Linked DNA regions of Homo sapiens: region 1 is linked to region 2. Evidence: fine-mapped expression QTL. Tissue or cell type: skeletal muscle. Region 2 holds a variant in brackets; the other region holds the start of a gene. All regions are shown on one strand. Distances are from middle to middle.

Region 1 (8,341 bases), 23 kb before region 2:
TATCTTTATTTAACCCCAGTTTTATAGATGAAGAAAAGGCACTGAGAGATTCAGAAATCTGTTCAAGGTCATATAAGTAGTGGGAGAAAAGGCTTGGAATTGAATCTAGGGCAGTCCGTGCACTTAATACTATACAAGATTAACTTTCTTTAGCGTTTGTATGAAGTAGATGCTGTACATCAACTTTATAACTTCATTAAATTATTTGTTTTAGAAGACAAGTTTTTTAGTCAAACTCTCTAATTTCAGAAATGTATTTACTCTGACAATTTTTAACATAGGCCTTCTTCATTACATCTTGGAGTAAAATAATTTAACCTGATATAAGAAAAGCAAGAGACGGCTGCCTACTACCTAATGGTTGATTCTGTCTCCAGGCTTAGCCTCTTCAGTTGTACTGTAACTTTTACCCTTAATGTCTTTCACTGTATACTGGTTTCTTCCTTTGACTTAGAGGTATGCTCAAGGCTTGCTTCTTCAAAGAGACACTTCAAAAAACCCCTGTCTTGAAGCTGCCACCCTTTCTTACTCACTACTGAAGAATAGTCTATATCCACGATTTCTACTTCCTTACAAGTAGACTAGATTTAGAATCAGTTGGGTGCTAATCCTAGGCGGGGGTTTCTCAGCCTTGGAATTATGGACATTTTGGGTCAGATAATTCTCTGGGGTGTGTATGTGGGGGCAGGAGACTGTTGTATATTGCAGGACATTTTACAGCATCTACCCACTAGATGCTATTAAATAATAGCACACCCTTCCCCAGGTGCGACAATAAAAAATGTCTCCAGACATTGCCAAATGCCCCTTGGGTGGCAAAATCATCACCAGTCTAGAGATACCGACTTAGTTTAAATTATTTAATCTCTCTGAAACTCAAATATTTTATCTATAAAAATGATATCTAGATGACTATTTAAAATTTCTTTCAGGTATAATATTCTACTTCTGGCCTCTAATCCCTCAACTATAGTGAAACTCTTCTCTCGAAGGTTTCCACTGCCCAAATCACTACAATCTAATGGTGGTTCTCAGTTCCAATCCTCTTTAATCTTTCAGAAGCATCTGACACTGTTGGGTACCAATTCCTTATATTTCTTTTTCGATAAGAGGTTGCTAAGATGTCCTCTTAAAATTCTCTCCTTTGGCTTTCAGGACATACTTTCCGGGTTCTCCTCCCTCATGCAATTTCACAATTTCAAGAATCAGATACATCCAAACTCCACCAACCTAATCAGTACTGTTACAGATCCAAATTACCAGCTTACATAAGATTCTGGTCTGTTCTTAGATCACACAATTTCAAAATGCCTACACTTGCCTATGCTTTGCTATAGTAATAACAATAAAGTCAACATTTCATTGAGAACTCATAATTTTAAAGGACTGTATAAGACTCTTTTTGGTCTTTTGATGTGACAATAATCTCAATCAAATGTTAATAAGCTTTTACTGGTTCCCTTTCTGACTCTGTTTCTGACATTCTAATCTTTTAAAGATATAGTTTCTGCTGAAAATAAAACATATATTTAAGATAAAATATAAACACTTAAACCTATAATTAAATGTGAGAGGTATTATATAGAAAGCTTAAATCTAGATCTACTATGTCCTTGTGATTTAGCAATATGACTTTAGGCAAGTAACTAAGCATTGATTTGGTCAATGAAATGGGGATAACAGTATTCACGCATGGGATTGTGAAGATTAAATGAAATAACATATACAAAGCACTTAGCATACAGAAAGAGCTCAATAAATGTTGGCTGTTATTATAGTTATCATCTAGAAAGCTATATTATCTTTAAATATTCCCATCTGTATCATCCTGAACCACTTTATTCCTATTGCAGTTCTTCTCAACCCACATCAGTCTTTTTTAATTTTTTTACTAATCACATATTTCTTTTTATCATTTTGAACACTTCAACAAATTGCATGTTTTGACCTCTTACATTAGCAGTTGTTCCTGGTATCCAGATGTAGCATGGTCATTTATAGTATTATTTGCATTTATAGTATCATTTTAAGAGGTAATATTAGTATTTTAACTCTTATAAGAGATACAGGTTACACTGCTATACAATTAGTAGGTAATCTCCTGTCAATAAATTCAAACATAAATTGCTTCCTAGCTTTTAAGTATAAATTTTGGCTCAAGGAAAAATTTTAATATATAACATTATAAACCAGGTTGGGACTATATTTGGTATAAGGTTTAGGCCCTTTGTTGCTGTTTTTTGTACAATTTACAACTACATTGCCAGATGAAAAGTTTTAATATAAATGACAACAGTACTGTTTCACTAAGGCTTTTATGTTACTTAGTACTAAAAAAATCTAATGTATTAAGGTGGGCTGAGGTACTAGAAATATTATGGATGAATTTTAGTAGAGCAAGAACAGGCATGACACAACCCATGGTTGGAGAAGATCCACATAAATAGTCCTTTCCATTTTGAGCAGCTGGCTTCAATACATCCTGCCCCTCCGCATGCTAGTTCTCCTAAGATGAACAGCTCTGAAAAGCTCCTTGATAGACTAGTTCTATCCCCTAGAAGGACAAACGAAAAGTACTAAAGAAATTGCAAAGCAACACTGTTGTGGGATAGGGATGGTAGATGCGCTAATAGATACATAAGGAATTCCAGTACACAAGATAATAAAAGTTAATGAGAGTGATATTTACAACATCCAGCCAAATGAGTGTTAGCCCATTCATAGTAATTATAGTTGTTTCTAATTTTTGTTTTAAAATGCTGCTCAGAACTCAACTAATTTTTAGAAATTTTGTTTATGTACTCCTTTAGAATTTTTTCGATGCTTTTATCTTCGCAGAGTGAATTTTTATAAATAAATGTCACTGACTGGGCACGGTGGCTCATGCCTGTAATCCCAGCACTTTGGGAGGCCGAGGTGGGTGGATCACGAGGTCAGGAGATCGAGACCATCCTGGCTAACACGGTGAAACCCCGTTTCTACCAGAAATACAAAAAATTAGCCAGGCGTGGTGGCGGGCGCCTGTAGTCTCAGCTACTCGGGAGGCTGAGGCAGGGGAATGGGAGGCGGAGCTTGCAGTGAGCTGAGGTGGGCCACTGCACTCCAGCCTGGGCGACAGAGCGAAACTCAAAAATAAATAAATAAGTAAATAAAATAAATAAATATCACTGGAGGTAAGCCAGGTGAACTGGATAGTAACAGAGTTGGATAATACTTTGGGAAATCACACATACACACACCAAAAAACCAAAACCAAACCAAAGATGCAGCAAAAAAATTAACGGAGATGACGTTCTTAGATTGATCCAAAGTTGCCTCCGTGTAATTTCACAAGCGTTTCCAAAATATTCTAGGCAAGAGGCAATTTCCAAAAGATTCTAGCAAGAGTTACTGAAGGTCAATATTCTTATGCAAACATTTTGTTTTTTTTTTTTGAGGGGTTGTGGGGGAAATGAGGAAGTGAAGGAAATCCTATTATTTAATAATTACATGGAGGAAAAACGACTGGTAAATTTGAAAGGTAGTTTTTAGATAAAAAACCAAAATACCTTAAGAAATGTCCTTAAATTTCCATATGTATGTCTGGCACCCTTAACTAGGGGGCCATGGAGAGAAGGAAGGTAGACGGTTTAATGTTCACAATAATTAACCCTTTTGTAATGAATTTAATCTCATCTTAACTCCCTGAGTTAAAAAAATAAAACAAACTGAGTCAGGTGCGATGGCTCGCAACTGTAATCCTAGCAGTTAGGGGAGGCAGAGGCGGGAGGACAGCTTGAACTCAGGAGTTCAAGACCAGCCTGGCCAACACAGTGAGACTGTCTCTACAAAAAATACAAATTAACCGGGCTCGTGCCTGTAATCCCAGTTTACGTAATCCCAGATTACAGGCTCGTGCCTGTAATCCCAGCTAGGGTAGGCCGAGGTGGGAGGATCTTTGAACCCGGGAGTTGGAGGCTGCAGTGAGCTACGATCGTGCCACTGCACTCCAACCTGGGCGACAGAGCGAGACTCCATCTCAAAAAACAAACAAAACAACAAAACTGAGCTAAAGACAAATAGGATTGACCTGGGGAGTGGGGTCTGAGGCAATGGGATGAGGCTGTCTAACAGGGCACCTCACAGGGAGATGAGAACCGCTTGGCCACACAGAGGCAAAATGCGGCCGAGGTCAGCACAGCCCTCTCGGGGTTAAGAACGGGGCGCCTGAGGGGTATCCCGGTCCCCGACTAGAACCTCCTACGCGCTGGCAGCCAGAAACAGGATGAAGGAGACTGGCGCGGACTGCGGGCTCTGCGGGCGGGGCGGGGCGGGGCGGGGCGGGGCGGGGCGGGGCGGGGGCCAGCCCTCTGGGGCATGCCGGGGGGCGGAGTCTGCGCTGAGTGAAGAGGTGCCAGAATCCGCGAAGAGGGTCGACGAATGCGCTGCCGCGGAGGGTAGGGCGCTGAGGGTCTGAACCCTGATGCAAGGAGGGGCTGGAGGTCGCGGGCACGTTTCTTTTGGGTTGGGCGGCGGAGGGGCAGCTCTAGGGCCTGGAGCAGGGCTTTACCAGAACAGTCCACCCCTCCCGCCCGGTTAACCTGAGCGTCTCTTTCGCCTTGGCTTGGTTCCGGTCGCTACTGTGGGTGCCGCCGCCGCAGCCTTTGGGCTGCTCGACCATACCCCGTCTTAGAAGGTCAGGTGTGCAAAACTTGGACTCGACTTCATCCAAGAGCTCGTCCAGGTCCTCCGCCATCTTGAATCGCCTGGCCTTTTCCCCTCCAATCGCCAAGGCTCCGGTGGTTTCCAGGAGTAACGAGGGGACCTGGCGGGCTCCTGCCCCGTTAGGCGTCCCCGCGCATGCGCACCGCTTCCCGTGGCAACCCGGCGCCCACGAGGGCTCGCGGCAGAGAACGCGGTGGGTTCGTGAGGGGCGGGCGTATGCAGGGACAGAGTTCGGAGCTGTCTCTGCAGTGTGTCTGTGTGACTCGCGATGCTTTGCGTTTCTTCCTTTCAGCATGTCTGGCGTGGTTCCTCCCGTCTCCCCCTCCCGGGCCCACGTTGTAACCACAAGCACGCATTCTCGCCCCTTCATTCTCTCCTCTCCCGTTTGGGTCCCTGTTGTGTTTCAGCCGTTTGTAAATTCCTGAAATCTGTGGAAGGTTTGAGCAGAACGCTCTAAAACACAAAAAGTAAGTGTTGACGGCAAAAAGCTGACATTCCCGTAGTCGGCAGGATTCGAACCTGCGCGGGGAGACCCCAATGGATTTCTAGTCCATCGCCTTAACCACTCGGCCACGACTACTGGCTGTGTGAATTTTTGCGGTGAGAGTGCATGTAGACTCTGCATAAGCGTCTGCTGCAGCAATAGGCACGTTTTGATGTGGAGGAAACCATTACTGAGCTGTTCTGTTAAGAGCATATTTGAATGTTACCTCGCTCATCATTTTACAGTTTGTAAAAGTCTTAGAACGTATCCCGTCCAACTCTTTGTTGGAAAAAACGGAAATTCTAATTAAATCCGAGAGAGAGAGAGAGAGAGACAGAGAGAGAGATGCGTGCTCAAAACTATTGCACACCCACTTGCTTGCACAATGTTGGAGCCATTTCCAGGAGAGAACCAGGAACCGGGTAGGGGCCAACCAGCTTCCCGACTTCCTTGTGGGGCTGCCAGTTCCACTCCTTCGCCTTTCTCTTTGACAAACGGCTCCCAGGACTATCTTTTCACCCATTATACATTAAAAAGCTATTACCCAGCGATTTAAATTCACTCTGCAGGGTCAGACAGTCCCACCGTGCCATAAAAGCACTACTTTGAAAAGTGTAAAGCGTGATACAAGTGTAAGGTATTGTAAATGGCATTCTTAATAAATACTGTGCATAGTTTAACCTGTGTTTTGGGTATTTCTAAAGTGGGGTAGCAAAGAGGTTGGCACCCTTGGGAACTCTGGAGATAGTTTGATCCAGATGATTTGTTTGTTCAAAGTATCTTTTAAGGTCCCTGAAGAGCAACATGTAGTGGTGTGCTGGAGCCAATGGGACATGCTCACTCCTACCCAGTGATAAATTTTCAAGGATTTTGGGAGCTAGTTGTTAAATGCAATTATTATTAAATATTAAATTATGCAAACTTGCAATTACATTATGTTAAAAGCAAATATGATACTCAAAATTCATATGCTAGTGATTCCACTACCTTTTACTATTATTTATAAATATAATTGAGATTGTTTACATCTGAAAGACTTTCTCTCTTTAACTTTCCATTCAGTGATGTCACTTGGGAAGCTTGAAATGAGCCATAGTGGGTGTTATTTACATGAGGGAAATTGCAAATGTGACAAAGCAGGGCTTTTTATCCCTAGGAGATGAAAGATACTTTGAACAAACAAATCATCTAGATCAAACTGTCATTTAGTAGAACACCCCATGTTACCATCAGACCAACTGTGAATATTCTCAGCAAGGCAACACTCCCCTTTTCTGCAGGGCTGCTCTATTTATTGTCTCTGAATCTTTGTTTTAGCTATTAGAATCCTGGCCTAAACACACACACACACACACACACACACACACACACAAATATGCATATAAACATATATGTATATTTACACACACAGGGGAAACTAGCATTTTTATGCAAAATACTTAACATTGAGCACTGACCACTCAGATCAGACACTGTCAGGATGCTTAAGTAGTATCCTAGAGGCACCCTGACATGTATTACCCTTGTAGTCAGAGTAGAGAACTCTAGAGGGTGGGGAGACAATGTTGGGGCAAGGAGGGGACTCGGACACTAGTTATTTGTCTAGAATCCTGGCATATTCTATGATTTCCAACTAATTAATTTTTTAAAGTTTTTTTCCAAGTTGCCTTGCTGGGCGATTTTACCTAGAACCGGTCTCTAGCAGAAAGGCAAGGAAAAGCTGCTTGAAAAAGCGGTCCTTGCAACATGGTTCCAGGGGAAGTCATAGTTAGTGGCCATCCAGTTTAACAGGCTTACATTAATGATTTGATTTTGCTCTTGAGAAGATGAAATCTGAGGGGATCTGTACCAATGTTGAAAGTATCTGTTAGCGGCCGGGCGCGGTGGCTCACGCCTGTAATCCCAGCACTTTGGGAGGCCGAGGCGGGCGGATCACGAGGTCAGGAGATGGAGACCATCCTGGCTAACACGGTGAAACCCCGTCTTTACTAAAAATACAAAAAATTAGCTGAGCGTGGTGGCGGGCGCCTGTACTGGCAGCTACTCGGGAGGTTGAGGCAGGAGAATGGCGTGAACCCGGGAGGCGGAGCTTGCAGTGAGCCAAGATCGCGCCACAGCACTCCAGCTTGGGCCACAGAGCGAGACTCCGTCTCAAAAAAAAAAAAAAAAAAAAAAAAGAATCTATTAGCGTGTAGAAGATTTGCAATGAGAGATGGTGAAAAAATAAAAGAGAAAATGTTTCTGGTTTTCTGTGTTTTGTTTTTTGTGTATATTAGAAAAAAATTAGTGTGTTCCCTCGCTCCCTCACTTCTACTCCCATTTTTCTGGTCTTTTGATTGGATAATTTATTCCGTTTACATTTTAAAATTTCATTTTATTGATTTTATTTACTTTCAGTAGCTTTTGGGGTACAAGCGGTTTTTGGTTACATGGATGAATTGTATAGTGGTGAAGTCTGAAATTTTAGTGCACCTGTCACCCGAGTAGTGTACATTATACCCAAAAGGTAGTGTTCTTTTTTTTTTTTTTTTTTTCCCAGACGGAGTTTTGCTCTTGCTGCCCAGGCTGGAGTGTGCAATGGTTTGATCTCTGCTCACCACAACCTCTGCTTCCTGGGTTCAAGTGATTCTCCTGCCTCAGCCTCCCAAGTAGCTGGGATTACAGGCATGTGCCACCATGCCGGGCTAATTTTGTATTTTTAGTAGAGACAGGGTTTCTCCATGCTGTTCAGGCTGGTCTCGAACTCCTGACCTCAGGTGATCCGCCCGCCTCAGCCTCCCAAAGTGCTGGGATTACAGGCGTGAGCCATCACACCCAGCCTCCAATAGATAGTGTTACTATCCTTTACCCCTCACCCGTCCTCCTCTCTTCTGAGTCTCCAGTGTCCATTATGCCACTCTGTATGCCTTTGTGTACCCATAAATTAACTCCTACTTACGAGTGAGAACATATGATACTTGGTTTTCCATTCCTGCCCACTCCCATTTTAATAAAATGGATGTATGGATCATCCAGAGTTTGGTATTTTGAGAATTTCATTTATGGCTCATTCAACTCTCCGGTGGGTCTCCTGACTTGAGTCATGTTCTCTTTCTGGTTTGCCACCGAGAGTGAAAGGTTGAGTTCAGAGTCTACAAGGAGAAATGCCATATG
Region 2 (8,341 bases):
CAGGCTGGAGTTCAGTGGCACAATATAGCTCACTGCGGCTTCGATCTCCTGGGCCCAAGGGATCCTCCCACCTCAGCCTCCTGAGTAGCTGGGATTACAGGTGCACACCACCATGTCTGGCTAATGTTTTATTTTATTTTATTTTAATTTATTATACTTTAAGTTCTGGGATACATGTGCAGAATGTGCAGGTTTGTTACATAGGTGTACACGTGCCATGGTGGTTTACTGCATGCATCAACCCGTTATCTACATTAGATATTTCTCCTAATGCTATCCCTCCCCTAGCCCCCCACCCCCAACTGGCCCCGGTGTGTGATGTTCCCCTCCCTGTGTCCATGTTTTCTGCTTGTTCAACTCCCACTTATTAGTGAGAACATACGGTGTTTGGTTTTCTGTTTCTGTGTTTGCTGAGAATGATGGTTTCCAGCTTCATCCATGTCCCTACAAAGGACATGAACTCATCCTTTTTTATGGCTGCATAGTATTCCATGGTATATATGTGCCACATTTTCTTTATCCAGTCTATCATTGATGGGCATTATGGGTTGGTTCCAGTCTTTGCTATTGTGAATAGTACTGCAATAAACATACGTGTGCCTGTGTCTTTATAGTAGAATGATTTATAATCCTTTGGGTATATACACAGTAATGGGATTGCCGGGTCAAATGGTATTTCTGTTTCTAGATCCTTGAGGAATTGCCACACTGTCTTCCACAAATGGTTGAACTAATTTATATTCCCACCAACAGTGTAAAAGTGTTCCTATTTCTCCACATCCTCTCCAGCATCTGTTGTTTCCTGACTTTTTAATGATTGCCATTCTAACTGGTGTGAGATGGTATCTCATTGTGGTTTTGATTTGCATTTCTCTAATGACGAGTGATGATGAGCTTTTTTTCATATGTTTGTTGGCCACATAAATGTCTTCTTTTGAGAAGTGTCTGTTCGTATCCTTTGTCCACTTTTTGATGGGGTTGTTTGTTTTTTTTTCTTGTAAATTTGTTTGAGTTCTTTGTAGATTCTGGATATTAGCCCTTTGTCAGATGGGTAGATTGCAAAAAGTTTCCCCCATTCTGTAGGTTGCCTGTTCACTCTGATGATACTTTCTTTTGCTGTGTGGAAGCTCTTTAGTTTAATTGGATCCCATTTGTCAATTTTGGCTTTTGTTGCCATTGCTTTTGGTGTTTTAGTCATGAAGTCTTTGCCCATGCTTCTGTCCTGAATAGTATTGCCTAGGTTTTCCTCTAGGGTTTTTATGGTTTTAGGTCTTACATTTAAGTCTTTAATCCATCTTGAGTTAATTTTTGTATAACATATAAGGAAGGGGTCCGGTTTCAGTTTTCTGCATATGGCTTGTCTGGCTAATTTTTAAATTTTTTGTGGAGACAGGATTTCACCATCTTCCCCAGTCTGGTCTCCAATTCCTGGCCTCAAATGATCCTCCCGCCTCAGCTTCCCAAGGTGCTGGGATTACAGGTGTGAGCTACCATGTCCAACTCCAGATTATCTAATTGAATCTTCACTTCAGCCTTGCTACCTTGTGATTTAGTCAGCATCAAGCAATAGAAAACCTGACCCAATAAGGAAGGTAATACAATAAGGAAAGTTATAGACACATCTAAATCCAGAGGTGTAGTGATCTCAGGGTTTTTCCTATTTTATAACACTTTCTTTCCTCCTCCTCTATTTTTATTTGAGCCTCTTTTATCAGTGGTTTCAAACTTTTTTGAGTCATTATATAATGACCCAGTACACAGAAACACTACACACACCCACATATACCCCCTCTGAATTAAAAGTTTCACTAAACAATACTTATCCTTAGTAGAGTGTAATTCACTCTTCTAGTATAATCTATTGTATATCTTATCCTATCCTGTCCTATCTTATTCTACTTTTAAAATTCTGGAGAAATATTGGCTACCTTGATTTCATGACCCTTCCATGGATCTCAACCCTTAGCAAAGCTTCCAGGCTCAACCCTCAGCTGGCTCTTTGGGCCTTGGACTTGGCTAGTCTGCATTCCCTCAACCTCCCCATCCACTACCTGCAATGCAGTAAAGTTTCCAAGTCTTACGCTTCATCTCCTGGTGATTCTGGCTCCTGCTTTCCCCTGTGACAGTTAGTCAGACACACTGACATTTAGCTCACCACTATGCTAACCATTTTTGTTCTGCCCAATCCTCTCTGGCCTAAGCCACTGTGAAATAGACTGGTTAGATCTTGTTGGGTCCTCACAGGGCCTTTTGTCACATTTGAGCCTCTCTTGAGTTCTGACACCAATAAGTCATAAATGAAACAGAGAGAAATGATTATTTTCTAGAACAAAGATAAAAAAACTGGAGCATTACAAAAAGCCACTTCTTTACTTAGATTTCTTTATATTCAGATGCTGTTTCCTTTTTTATTTCCTTCTCTCTTTGTTACTCTGAATGAGGTGCTCAAGTAAGTGTTTGTCCTATTTAAATAGAGAACCTCATCACCATGCATGTTCAGTGTTGGCTTTGCCTGTAGAAGTGTAGATTTGTCCAGAATTTCTGCAGAAATACTGGGTACATGCAGGTTCACCAGCAACTCTCACCCCCTGAAATCAAGTCCAGTCTAGCTCTTCATAAGTACATAAATCATTTTAGGGAAGGTGAAAGTTCATCTGGTCCAATATTTCTCCTCTGTTTTGCTTTATCTTAATCCTGTTTCGCTATTTTTTTCACCACGCCCTTAATCTTTGCTGTCTCTAAAAGAAGCATAACTGCCTCTTCTTAACTTTCATAAACTCTGTTAGAAGCACTTTCTTCAATAACTTGTTCCATATGTTGCATACATGAGCTCCATCAAGATCCCCCTTCCCCCCACTGCTTCCTCAATTTTGCATGGCATCCATCAGTGTTTGAATCATTACAAGTAAAGGGGGAAAATACCCTCCAATGCCATCCCAATGGGACCTTTCTCTTTGGCATGTTCAGCATGTCCCATCATTTAGAAGGCTCTGTGTGGTTTTCTGGAAGTTTTTCTAACCCAGTGAGAAACAGCTGGTTTACCTTCACTGTCCTCTCCTTCTTTCCTTTGAAAGCTCCATATGGCTTGGGTGATGCCGCCTTGCCCTACTCAGGACAGCTTCCTGGGATGAAGGACAGCAAACACCTCTATCTTCCTTAGAAGGGTCCAACAAGAACTCTGAGTAGACCGAGGACACCTCTCTGGGTTTCCAGTCAATTTCCTCTGTAAACAAGCGCTCAGATTTTGGCCATTCTTAACTGTAGCTGATGATTTAAAAATATATATTTTTTCATTTTCTAAATAACTCCACTTATCTCCATTCTAGTTCTTTTTGTGATCTTTGCCCATATTTGACTGTTTCGTGAGACACATACTTAATAGCCAGGTCTCTGCTCCCAGACTAATTATTTCATTTCTCACTAATAATAATAATAATTACTTTTACTTTTCAGGTGGCTATATCTTTTCCTTGTGATGAGAGTGTTCCTTTCTGTGCACTAGCAGGCTTTATCATCCTTCACCTCTTTCTACATCTCTGAAACAGGAAAGGTAGCCACTCCCTTCTCCCCTCACTTGCTTTGGGGCCTTAGTGCCACAGGTGCTAGGAGCTCTCAGATGGTTTATAGGGCCTGGCAGGGCTGCAGTAATGGGGAATCACACTTCATTATTGCTGTTTTCTAAGTCCACCCTTTTTTAAATGGCTACCAGGACACTGTTTTAGAGTGTTTTCCATGCCTCCCAGGCACAGAACCCCTGTGGATGTGGCCAGCCTATAGAGGCTGTGCAAAGGCTCATAAGAAAAAAACTGATACCTGGTGAATATTTTGTTACAGCACTAATTTCTTCCTTTTTTTCCCTCTTCCCAATCTTATAAATATGTCACTGGAGAAATGTCTATTCAAGTTCTTAGCCCAGTTTTTTTTTCAAAAGAACCAATATTTTTAAAATAAGTGTACTACACAAACCAATCTATAAATTCAATGCAATTATCAAATTACCAATGTGTTTTTTTCACAGAATTAGAAAAAAACAGTGCTAGAATTTATATAAAACCAAGTATGTGTGTAATAACCAAAGCAATTCTAAGCAAAAAGAACAAATCAGGTTACTTTAAAAAAAAAATTCAGTTGTAGAGGGTTCTGAGGTATTCTGGAGTTTAACCCTGTATCAGATGTATGGTTTGCAAGTATTCTCTCTCATTCCATAGGTTGCCTTTTCACTCTCTTACTTGTCTCCTTTGCTGTTCAGAAGCTTTTTAGTTTGATGTAATTGACTTATTTTTGTTTTCATTGCCTGTGCTTTTGGTGCCATATTCATGAAATCATTGACTTCTTCCTTATGTTTTCTTCTAGGAGTTTTTATAATTTCAGGTCATAAATTTAAGTCTCTGACCCACATTGAGTTGATTTTTGTGTATGATAGAGGATAATGGTCTAATCTCTAAAGGAGACACACAAATGGCCAAGTATATTAAAAATGCTCAATGTCACTAATCATCAGGGTAGTGCAAACCAAAACCACAATGAAATATTATCTCATACCTGTTAGGGTAGCTATTATCAAAAAACAAAACAAAAGACTACATCTGTTGGTGAGGATGTGGACAAATTGGAAATCTTGTACACTGTAGGTGGGAATGCAAAATGGTGTAGCTGCTAAGAGAAAGTGTGGAGGTTCCTCAAAAACTAAAAACTAGAACTACCATATGATCCAGCAATCCCACTTCTGGGTGTTTATCCAAAACAGTTGAAATGAGAATCTTGAAG[A/C]GATAGTAGCACTCCAGTGTTTATTGCAGCAAAAAAGGTGGAAACAAACTTAGTGTCCATTGAGAGACGGATGAAGAAAATGTATATATATACAGTGGGATACTACTCAGCCTTAATAAAGAAGGAAATTCTGCACTATATGACCACATAGATGAACCTTGAGTACATAATGCTAAGTACAATAATGAGCCAGTCACAGAAGATTCCACTTGTATGAGATATCTAAAATAGTCAAATTCAAAGAATCAAAGAGTAGTACGGTAATTACTAGGGGCTGGGGGAAGAGGGAAATGAGGATTACTAATCACTGGGCATAAAAGTTTAGTTAACAAGACAAATGAGTTCTCAGATCTGTTGTACAACATTGTACCTATAGTCAACAATAATGTATTGTACACTTAATTCATTTTAAGACAATAAAATACATTTAAAAAAGAGATGTCATTGGGTTTGCTCCACAGGTCCCAGTGCCTGTATCTTTTCAAACACTGGCCCCATGCTCTTAGATGTACCTCCACTGTTGCTGGAGGTACGCCTAAGCTGATGGGGTCACAATGGATTCATCTGGCCCCATGGTGCATTGTTTAAGGGAGGGTCTTCTGTTTGGCCTCATAGTGTAGTATTGAACTAAATAACCTCTGATGCCATACTGCCTGGATAAAATATCCCAACTCTGCCACTTATTCACTGTGGATCTTGGGGAGGATGCTTAATCTTTTTGCATCTCAGTTTTCCTCATCTGTGAAATGGAACTGATAACACCACTCTCCTGAGAATTAGATAAATTAATGCACAGGAGCGCTTAGAAGCATGCCTGCCTCATCGTAAGCACCCAACAAATATTGGCTGTTATTTGGTACTTTCGTGTTCCAGCTCCATTCTCCAACCCCCCACCCCACTTCTAATAACATTTCCACGAATGGACAATTAGGAGAATTCTATTAGGTCTTGGTCTTCTATTAGTAGTTCTATTGATCCTTGAGATTGTGTCATTTTAAAAAAATCTCTGGTTTTATTTTGCCAACTTCTGAAATCTGTGCAAAGTATGGATGTAGGATTTTTGCATTTGGAACTCCTCCAGGGGCCCAGGGACCCATGGTAGGGAAAATAAAAGAGGTCTTCAGAGATGTCTTGTGTCTCCAGAGAAACAGCAGTATTACTTCACCGGTTGACTTAATGGAATCAGTCGGAATCAGCCCCAAGCAACTTTCCCTGCCTAATTACCCCATCACCTGTTCAAATACAGCCATTACTTTGGTATTTATTAATTGTGTTGTGATCAGCTTTTAAGGTATGTCTTTTCCTTTTTTTTTCTTTCAGCTTAGCCAGAATCACATTTTAGGGCAACCAGATTTTAATGATATTGACAGGTACTATAGCTTGACTTTCTAAGCTCTTTCCATACAAACTTAATTTTTGGTTTTGGTAAGTTTGCGAAATGGATAGCCAGTTTCTAACTCTTGTATGTTTCCCTGGGTGAACTGTCATTTTTATTTTTTGTCAAGTGAGCTACAGGTAAAGCTTGTGATCATAGCAAAACATGTTTAATACTTTTGATGGAATTGAACACAAAGTTAACTGAATCTTTCACTAAACTGGCAAGTTAATTGAATGAAATGATTAGTTTGTTAGTTTCTTTGGTCAACTTTGCTGGAATAGTTGGTTGATCTGTTATCATAGAGCCTAGAACAGTTTCACTTCTCCTAGTCCCATGCGAAGTATTCACTGACTGTGCTTCTTTCCCAAGCAGTACTTGTGTCAAAACACTGCTACCTGAGATATTTTCAGAGACCTTTACATGGACTGTTTTTGCAACTCTTATTCCATGGGTGAGTCAGTGCAGCAACAGGTCTGTATGGACTCCCAGCAGGTTGTTTCTCTGCCCGGAATCACTTGCCAGATGATTTTAATGTTGAAGGGCAAAACTTAGCATTGGTTTGTGGCCCTTTTTAAAAACTCAACAAGCAGAACAAATACCAATTCTATAGGGACTTGGGGGCAAGAGAAGTCTCAGAAGCTGGCCCATTTCTCAGTTTGGGTCTGCTAGTGAGGCAGGGCTTAAGGTTAACTCAGTCCTTATAGGTACAGGACTGTCTCTTAGTTTTACAGTCTTCAACATTTTATTAACTTCCAGGCAGTAATAATAACTACCATATAACCCTTACTGCAGGTAGGCACTACTTGAAGTACTTTAGATGTATTACTCAATTTAATGTTCTCAACAGCCCTATGAGGTAGGCTCTGTTAATTATCCCACTTTACAGATGAGGAAACAAAGTGCCTCAGAGAAATGAGGTTTTTGCCTGAGGTCCCATAGCAAGTAAGTGGCAGTATATAAGGTTTCAGAGCAAGTGTGGACAGAGCCAGGATTTAAACCTAGGCAGCCTGGCTCTGGAGTCATAACTGCTATACTGTACTGAGGGACTGCCTTAAATCATGCTGAAACCAGAGTGGAAATGGATTTCTTTACAATGACGGGTATAATAACTATGATAATAAATATTGGTTATTTTCTCTGATCACTGTCTCCCAGTGAATGAATCTACTGGAAAGTCCAAATCATTGATTAATTGTTGCTAGCTGAGAATACAACCTGAACAAAGACAGTAACAAATATTCATTGGATTGGAGGGGTAAGGAAACAGGGGACATCATTACTTTTTCTGGGCTCCAGGTCACACGGCCTCAGCCTGATTTTTCAGAGGCACATCAGAACTTGGAGCTGAGGAGTGAGGACCAAGTCTTGCCCCATGAAGTCTCAGGTCCGTGCCAAGAGTCTGGGGCACCATTACTAGCCCCACCCTGGGCAACAAGCCACGAGGGAGCCAAGGCGAGAAGCCAAGAGAATCGAGAAGCATGTGTGATGAGGAGACTTCAAGCTGGCCCTGGGGAGGCATCTGGAGGAATTTCCTGAGCTGGAGTCCAGAATTTGCCATAGGTTTTTACGTGTGCCTCTGGTGTGGGATCCTTGGGATAGTTAAAGGGGCTACATAGGAGGAGACTTGTTTCTAGGACGCTGAGGAAGCTGGATGGATTACCCTGTCTCCTTCCAGGGCTGTGTCTAGAACTCTGACAGCGGTCGCAGAATCAGACACCTTCTGTCCTGGGTGGATCATAGTCACAATTATAACATTCCTTAATCTCAAATTCCTTAAAAAAATCTTTTTATTTTGAAATAGCCATAGATTCACAGCGGGCTGCCAGAATGGTTCAGAAAGGTGCTGTACACCCTTAATTCATTTCCGCCAGTGGTCACATCTTGCCTAACTAGAGTACAATATCAAGCCAGGAAATCGACATTGGTGCAATCCACAGATCTTTTGCAGATTTCACCAGTTTTACATGCACTTATTTGGGTGTGTGTGAATAGTTCTATGCAATTTTATCATGTGTGGATTTGTGTGTTCACCATCACAATCAGGATACAGAACTCTTCTATCATCACAAAGGTCCTTGAATTCCTTTTAAAAAGGAAACATCCACTTCTGAGAGCACTATTACCTCATGCTGCTAAGATGTAATTGAGGTTACAGTCTCCTTTATATCTTTTGCATTTCATTAATATTTTTGTGTG

Which allele goes with the higher level. Positions count from the first base shown, and alleles are read on the strand shown. Sizes are in standard deviations (SD) of each study's normalised expression.
As copies of C replace A in region 2, the expression in skeletal muscle of the gene that starts at base 4,747 in region 1 goes down (small effect, 0.24 SD a copy in GTEx).

What was found. PIP is the estimated chance that this variant, and not a neighbour inherited with it, causes the effect.
Region 1: CFAP418 starts here. The variant in region 2 is fine-mapped to the expression of CFAP418 in skeletal muscle (GTEx, PIP 0.91).

Annotation. Positions count from the first base shown.
Region 1 is chr8:95,264,455-95,272,795 of GRCh38, forward strand. It overlaps CFAP418 (cilia and flagella associated protein 418), which reads right to left and starts at 4,747. Exons shown (of 6, transcript NM_177965.4): 1 at 4,581-4,747. The coding sequence starts at 4,735. It overlaps CFAP418-AS1 (CFAP418 antisense RNA 1), which reads left to right and starts at 4,382. Exons shown (of 4, transcript NR_038209.1): 1 at 4,382-4,436. It overlaps TRS-AGA2-5 (tRNA-Ser (anticodon AGA) 2-5), which reads right to left and starts at 5,284; the gene lies at 5,203-5,284. RefSeq lists enhancers at 4,339-4,778, 4,733-5,372, 5,409-5,488.
Region 2 is chr8:95,287,256-95,295,596 of GRCh38, forward strand. All of the region lies in intron 1 of CFAP418-AS1 (CFAP418 antisense RNA 1), which reads left to right. Among named protein-coding and RNA genes, the nearest start is that of TRS-AGA2-5, 22 kb to the left of the region's middle. The variant A/C (reference allele first, on the strand shown) is at 4,768.